Linked DNA regions of Homo sapiens: region 2 is reported to be linked to region 1. Evidence: microRNA targets listed by miRTarBase, many of them from high-throughput screens and not tested one by one. Region 1 holds a microRNA gene; the other region holds the end of a gene's coding sequence.
Evidence for each region. The annotated mature microRNA hsa-miR-345-5p reads GCUGACUCCUAGUCCAGGGCUC and lies in region 1 at 1,562-1,583, shown strand. An mRNA with a match to its seed (bases 2 to 7 or 8) in the 3' UTR can be bound and repressed. Matches are read on the target gene's strand: a 7mer-m8 pairs with bases 2 to 8, a 7mer-A1 pairs with bases 2 to 7 and ends in A, and an 8mer does both.

Region 1 (4,068 bases):
GAGCGCGCGGTGCCGGGGCTGGGCCTGGCCGCTCCTCCTGGCGCGGAGCCCGGGCAGGCGCGGTCAGGGATGGTGGGGATGGCGGCAGCAGCTAGACCCGCGCTGGTCCCTCGGCGGCAGCTGACTCGCTGGATCCCCTCCGGCCCGCGGTCCCTCACCTCGGGCCGCGCGCCCCGCCCCTCGTGCCTGCCGGCAGGGCCCGGGTGGGGGCGCCGAGTGAGGCCAATGGGCGGGCACGGCGCGGACAACACCCCGGGCACTGCGCTTCGCCGCCGCGCCTCATTGGCCGGGCGTGCGCGGGAGGCGGGGCGCGGGGGACGTGGTGGGCGCGCGGGCGGGGCGCGGGGACGCCTCAGACAAAGAGCGCGCTGGGTGCGCAGGTCCGGCGGGAGGGGACGCGCGGGGTGGCGGGGTTGAGCCGAGGACTCCCCCACCCGGAGTACGCGGGGTGGCTCTGGTCTGGACCGGGTCGGGAACCGGACCCTGGGTTCGGAGTCCGGCGCCGCCGCAGAACCTCAGCGCCCTAGTCTGTGCCGTGCGGACCCTGCCGCGAAAACGGCCGTGGAGCGCCGGGACGTTCCGAGGCCCGCAGACTGGGACGCCGCTAGTTGCGAAACTCCGCGAGCGGGAATCGCCCGTGGGGAGCCTCTGCCCGTCCCGCCTGCGCGCCCGCGGCGGCGGTGGCCTCCGGGGCTTCCGGACTCCTGGCCGAACCCGCCGGGTTCTGGGGGTCGGACGCGCACGGGCGCTTCCTGCGGAGCCTGAGGCTGGGATTTGGGCGGAGAGCAGGGAACCTTAAAAGGGAAAGGGGCCATGGGCAAAGGGCGCAGCAGGCCTTCGGGCCACAGCTCCTTCCCGAGGACTGCGGGTCGCGGGAGCCGCGGAAGGTTGTGGAGAGAGGGAGGTTCCTGGACTGGGCTGCAGAGTGGAGTCGGGCCAGATCGCAGCGCCTCCGTCAGCGGCGGCCGGACGGGGCGAGACCGGAGGGGCTCGGTAGGGGCCGCGCTCAGGCGCTGAAGTCGGAGGGTGCTTGGCTCTGGGTCACCAGGGTATCCATGGGCTGCGGGGATGAATGAGAGCCGAGTCTGACTCGGCCCCCCAGGAGTCCCTGACATTCGCAGTGGCAAGGGACTGCCCTGGTCCCTGTGGAGCGTCCCATTCGGTGACTTCCCACCAGCCCTTCCCCAGCGCCTCTGGAGGTCCAGACTGTCAGGTTGGAGCCTGGGAGCAGGGACGGGCCAGGCGCTTTCTCTTCGCTGTAGGAGTCAGATCAGCCTTAGGCCGGGCCCAGCTTCCTTCTTTAGGGCCTGCAGGCAGGCAAGGCCACACCGTGTGCCACGTTTCCAGGTTTAGGGTCACATGGTTCTTTTATCCAAATTCCAGTGGGTACCTACCTCCTGGAGGTGCAGGTCGAAAGGTTCTGTGTATTTGGTACTAGGACACACAGGTAGGTGTTGTCAGTAGTGCAGCCTGGTGCTAGGGGCAGGGGTCCCCAGTGCTCATGTTAGTTTCCTTTTAGAGTCTAAGTAGAATGTTAAGCAGAGACCCAAACCCTAGGTCTGCTGACTCCTAGTCCAGGGCTCGTGATGGCTGGTGGGCCCTGAACGAGGGGTCTGGAGGCCTGGGTTTGAATATCGACAGCCTCTCTGACCCACTTGGTTGCCTCAGGGAGGCAGGTGTGCGGATGGGGGAGAGTGGCCCATGGGCCAGAAAAGCAGTGGTATGGGGGCCCCAAGAGAAGCCCAGACCCAAAAGGGCAGGAGCTGGCTGTGGGGCTACTCAGGTGGCTGGAGGCCTCCTGCAGACACAGTGATTACACTGGACTACCTACATGTAGTCACTTACCTTAGGAACAGGATGTCCTTGGGATGCTGGAGGGCTCATGAGGTAAAGCACAAATCCCTGCACATCCATTCCTGGTTGAGGAGGTTTGGGAGGGAAATCCAGTACCTTGACAGCATGTGGCAGTAGTGAGAAAATGATGGAAACGGATAAGGAGACAAGCATGACCTGTTTTGCTTTGTTATTGAGAGAATGCACATGCCTTGAAAATTATGCTTGGGGCAGGTTGCACTGAGCTGTCAGTCCCTGGGGTCCTTGGGAAGGGGCCTAGTAGCCTGGTAAACAGTAGGTATTCCATAGTTGAGCTTCAGAAACCTCCTTGAGGCTGGGTTCAGTGGCTCATGCCTGTAATCCAGGCACTTTGGGAGGCTGAGGCAGGAGGATCGCTTGAAGCCAGGAGTTTGAGGCCAGCCTGGGCAACATAGTGAGGCCCCATCTCTAAAAAAAAAAAAAATCGGCAGGATGTGGTGGCGCATGCCTGCAGGCCTGTAGTCCTAGCTACTCAGGAGGCCGAGGCAGGAGGGTCGCTTGAGCCCAGGAGGTCAAGGCTGCAGTGAGCTATGATCGAACCATTGTGCACCAGCCTGGATGACAGAGCAAGACCCTATTTCAAAAAGAAAAACCTCCTTGCAGGGAGGGTCCTTTGTTGAGAGAGCTGAGGCAGGCCGTGTGAGGGCAGCAGTGGGATCGTGCCAGGCCTGGGAGATGAGGAGTGCGGGCCCTTAGCTGTGCACTTTGCAAGGAGAGGGCAGGGTTCTGGGTGTGTGTGTGTGGTCGGGGGAGGGCTGTTGGATTTGGGGACTAAGGTCAACATGTGGGGGACAGTGGAGGACTGGGCTCTGGGACAGATTTGCCTGACCTGACCCGCCAAGGGAGCCTCAGCTCCCTTGTGGGTGACAGGGGGCTGCCTTCAGCTGGAAGTACCCTGAGGGCAGGTCCCAGGTCTGTCCCCTTCATCTTGGTGTGCCCAGGGCCTGCACAGTTGACACTGGGTGGGGGACATTGGGGAGGGGGTGAGGACAGGCACTGGAAAGGGATGCGTCCACACGGGTGTGCTGCTGGGTTACTAAACTTTGCAAAACCACATCTTCCTGAGCACCCTGTTTCCCTGCTGCCTGGGAATCATGCACTCAGTCGGCGCACTGCCCTGTGCCCTGTGTTGGGGACAAGACAGACACAAATCCCTGACCTCCATGTCAGGGCTGAGGAGAGACCAGAAAGGAGGAGTGAAAAAGTTGGTGCCAAGTAAATGAATCCGTATGCCTACATCTTGGACACTTGGGTTCAGTGTCTATTGTTTTATTTCATTTCCTGAGGATAAGGTTACAGCACAGAATGTGCTTTCTCAAACTCCCATGTTCCACAGAGCCCTGGACCTCCCATCCCAGAGGAGGCAGGGCTCTGTGCAGCCCTGAGGACCCCAGCCTTTTAAGGGGCAGGGCAGACCCAAGGCCAGCACAGGACAGCAAGGCCGGAGGGACTGTCACGGGGCACCGAGGGTCAAGCCAGCTCACTGGAAAGGGTGTGTTGGAGTTTTCCCTGTGTACAGCTTTTATTCTCACACAAGACAGGTTCAGTGTGGAGAAATCAGAAACGCCAGAAAGTAAAAAGGAAACGCAAGTCTCTGTCCCCACCCTGGAATCTTGGAGCTGAATGACCCCCTGCAGGAGCTGTTTGGGCCAGGACTTGGGGGGGGTGGCTGCAACTCAGGCTGCCAGAGGGCAAGTTGAGGGGGAGAGGATGAGGCACCAGCTGTGTAGACCTTCCCAGGAGTTAGGCTGTGCAGGGGAGAGTGCACAGAAGGGCTCTGGCAGCAAGCACAGGTGTAGACTCGGGATGGGAGCCACCTGAGCAGGTTGCAAACTCCTGGCCAAAGATTGGTGGGGCCGGCGCGCTGTCAGTCGCCTCCTGTCTCATATTGGAATACTCGAGCTCAGTGCCATGGTGTGAGGCCCAGGGTAACCAGACTACAACCTCACCTCCCACCTTTCATGCCCTCTGGCCCTCTTATTGGAGCCCACCCTCTAAGCTTGTGCCCCTCTCAGGGCCTTGGCACTGGCAGCTCCTCTGAGTCCCTGGGGTCCTTGGGAAGGGGCCTAGTAGCCTGGGATTACAGGCACCCGACACCATGCCTGGCCAATTTTCTGTATTTTTAGTAGAGATGGGGTTTTGCCATGTTGGAAGCTTCTGCCTGGCCTGGCGTCGTTACCTCTAGAACTTGGGTTC
Region 2 (3,700 bases), not on the chromosome of region 1:
CATGGCAGTCTCCCCTGGTCTGTAAGATTTTCATTGAAATGTCTGCTGCCAGATATATTACAGCTCCATTGTACATTATTTTTTTCTTTTCTCTTGCTGCATTTGTGATCCTTTCTCTATCCTTGACCTTTGGGAATTTGATTATTAAATGCCTTGACATAGTCTTCTTCGGGTTAAATCTGTAGGTGTTCTATATTTGGATATTGATATTTTTCTCTAAGTTTGGGAAGTTCTTTGTTGTTATTCCTTTGAATAAACTTTCTATGCCTATCTGTTTATCTCCCCTTTAAGGCCAGTAACTCTTAGATTTTTTCTTTTGAGGTTACTTTCTAGATCCTGTAGGTGTGCTTTGTTTTTTATTTTATTTTTTTCCTTTTATGTCCTCTGACTGTGTATTTTCAATTAGCCTGTCTTTAAGCTCACTAATTCTTTCTTCTGCTTGATCAATTCTGCTATTAAAAGACTCTGGTGTATTCTTCATTATGCTAAATGCATTTTAACTCCAGAGTTTCTGCTTGATTCTTTTAAATTATTTTAATCTCTTTGTTAAATTTTTCTGATAGAATTCTGAGTTTCTTCTCTGTGTTATCTTGAATTTGAGTTTCTTCAAAACAGGTATTTTAAATTTCTTCCTGAAAGGTCACATATCTCTGTTTCTCCAGGATTGGTCCCTGGTGCCTTACTTTAGTTTGGTGAGGTCATGTTTTCCTGGATGTTTTTGATGCCTGTAGATGTTTGGTGCTGGGGCATTGAAGAGTTAGGCATTTATTGTAGTCTTCTCAATCTGGGCTCGTTTGTACCCATTCTACTTGGGAAGGCCTTCCAGATATTCAAAAGGACTTTGATGTTGTGATCTAAGCCATATCTGCTTTAGGGGCCACCCTAAGCCCAGTAATACTGTGGTTCTTGCCAACTTGTAGAGGTACCACCTTGATGGTTTTAAGCAAAATCTGGAAGAATTCTTTGGATTATCAGGCAAAGGTTCGTATTCTCTTTCCTTACTTCCCCCCAAATGAATGGCATCTCTCTCTTTTCTGAGTCACCTGGAGCTCTGGGTGGTGTAACACAAGTACCTCTGTGGCCAAAACCACTAGGACTGTGCTGAACCGTTAGACCTGAAGCCAGCACAGCACTGGGTCTTACCCGAGTCCTGCTGTAGTCACTACCTGGCTATGGTCTATGTTCACTCAAGGCCCTGGGGGCTCTACAATCAGCAGGTGGCAAAGCAACCAGGCTTGTGTCCTTCCCTTCAGGGTGGTGAGTTACCCCTGGCCCTGTGCATGTCCAGAGGTGCTTTCAGGGGCCAGGGTCTAGAGTCAAGAGCTTTAGAAGTCCATCTGATATTGTACTGTACTGCAGATAAGGTAGCATTCAAACCAAAAGACTCAGTTCTTCCCATTCTTCCCTCCCCTTTCCAAAAGCAGAGATGCCTCCCACCATGGCCACTGCCACCATAGGCCTATGGGGAGTACTGCCGGACTACCACTAATGTTTCCTTAAAGAAGGCCCCAAGGCTCTTCAGTTAGCTTGTAGTGAATGCTGCCTGGCCTGGGACTTGCCCTTCAGGGCAGTGGGATCCCCTCTTGCCTAGGGCAGTTCCAGAAATGTATTCCAAGAGCCAAGTCCTGAAATTGGGAACCCAAGGGCTCACTCTGTGCTCTACCTCACTGTGACCAAGCTGGAAGACAAAGTCCACTTTGCTTTTTCCTCTGTTTTTCTCAAGTAGAAGGAATCTTGACCCATAGCCACAATAGCTGGGACTATGCTGAGTCTCACCTGAAGCCAGAAATTCTCAGGGTCTCACCTAAAGCCCTCCACATAGTACTTAAGTATCGCTGCTGGTTATTTAGGGCCCAGAGGCTTTTCAGTTAGCAGGTGATGTGTCCTTCCAGGACTGAGTCCTCTTCAAAGTAGCAGGCTCCCTTCTGGCCCAGGGTGTGTCTAGAAATGTCATCTGGGAGCTAGGGCCTGGAAAGGGGGCCTCATGACTCTGACTGGTGCCCTATCTTCCTGTGGCTGAGCTGCTATTCAAGATGCAAGACAAAGTCTTCCCAACTTGAGTCCTCCTTGAGCAGTCGGAAACGGTCTCTTTTGGAGCCATGAGCTGTGCTGCCTGGGATTAGGGGAGGGGTGATTCCAGCACTCCCTTAGCCACTCTGTGACCACCCCCACTCCCTGCCAAGTCCACTGTGTCTGGGCCTAGTGCAGCACTAGGACTCACCTAGGAATTTCAAGTTTATATAAGCCTCCAGAGTACTTTAGCTTGGCAGCGGCAAGGCTTGCAGAAACTTAAATTCCGACAGCTGGGATCAGCAATTCTCCTCTAGCTAGGGCTGGTTTAAATTAGCCCTCTGTGGGCAGGTGTCAGGTGAGTTTGGTCTGGTTTTGTTTTCTGTTATAATGGGGAAGCACTGAGTTCAATGTCTCACAAATGCTGCAGTCTTTCTCTCCTCACCACACAGAAATGCTCTCCACACCACACCCTTGCTGCTGGAGGATGGGAAAGGGGGGGTGTTGGTGATTCCAGACTGTTTTTCCTATCTCTTCCGTGTCTCAGCAATATGAAGTTAAAACTACAGACTCTGAGTGCTCTCCTGATTTTTGATTCTTAAAAAGGTGCTTTCTTTGTTTAGATAGTTGTTAAATTGGTGTCCTTGAAGGGGGATAATTGGTGGAGTCTTCTGATTTCTTGCCTGGCTTATTTATTCACAGACTTTTTATTTTATATTTAAATATGTAAGTATAAATACTTATGTATTTGCTATAAATTATCTTAAGCTAAGGTCACTTATAACCTATGAGTTCTAATATAAGCAGTAAGTAATCTTCTGTATTTCAGGAATCCAGTGTGTCAGATTTTTGAGATTCACTAGAATAATTTATCAATTAACTTTTCTTAGCATCTATATAATTCCCCAAATGGTCAAATTTGTTTACTATCAAGTACTATTCAGCCGATCCACAGAGCCACATAAATCTATTACAGAGCTTTTTACTGGTCAAGGTTAATCCTGGAAAGATGACGTGGTGACAGAAGGTAGTCAAGCAGGCAAACGGTGAGGAAAAAACTGAAGCAAATCTCTTTCCTCCACAAGTTTCATGCCTCCCTTCTACAGGCTCGGATCCCACTTCCCTTCTATTGCTCAAGGATATTTCTTAGGGAATCAGTGGGGTAACATGTCCTCTGTCTCAAGTGTGAGAGATGGAAAGAAGAAGCATCTGAGCTTCCACAAGGTGCTCCTGCCCAGTACCTTGGGCAGTACATTGACGAGGAGATCTGGATTTATGAATCTTACATGAAAAAACATGTAGCTCAGCAGTCTGATGAAAAATAGGGTGATGAAAAAGAGACAGCAAAAAATCCTAAAAAGAGAATGCCATGAAACTGTTAACCAGAAGCTTAGAAAACTTGGAACAAAAAATAAATCATACCTGAATGCATATCTGGCTCCTAATTGATATTCAAATGGATTATCACCCCCTTTCCTGACAACCTTTTATAATGGCAGCTCCCCCTCCCATATTCTGTCCTATTGGTTATTCTCTGTCCATTACCGTGTTTTATTTTCTGGGTAGCATTTGTCACTAAAATAATTTTGTTCTCTGATTTTTTGTTTTGTTTATTTTTGGTTTTGTTTTGGCAAGTTGTTTTTCAAAACAGTTTCATTGGCTTATAACCCTCTAGCAAGGTATAAGTTTC

Region 2: the mRNA of TMCO5A is a reported target of hsa-miR-345-5p. The part of its 3' UTR that is shown has no 7-base or 8-base seed match.

The regions. Positions count from the first base shown.
Region 1 is chr14:100,306,315-100,310,382 of GRCh38, forward strand. It overlaps MIR345 (microRNA 345), which reads left to right and starts at 1,545; the gene lies at 1,545-1,642. SLC25A29 (solute carrier family 25 member 29) reads right to left here and starts at 130. Exons shown (of 4, transcript NM_001039355.3): 1 at 1-130. RefSeq lists silencers at 1-60, 121-590, 681-750 and enhancers at 841-910, 941-1,110.
Region 2 is chr15:37,950,699-37,954,398 of GRCh38, reverse strand. It overlaps TMCO5A (transmembrane and coiled-coil domains 5A), which reads right to left. Exons shown (of 12, transcript NM_152453.4): 12 at 2,977-3,363. The coding sequence ends at 3,165. Among named protein-coding and RNA genes, the nearest start is that of TMCO5A, 18 kb to the right of the region's middle.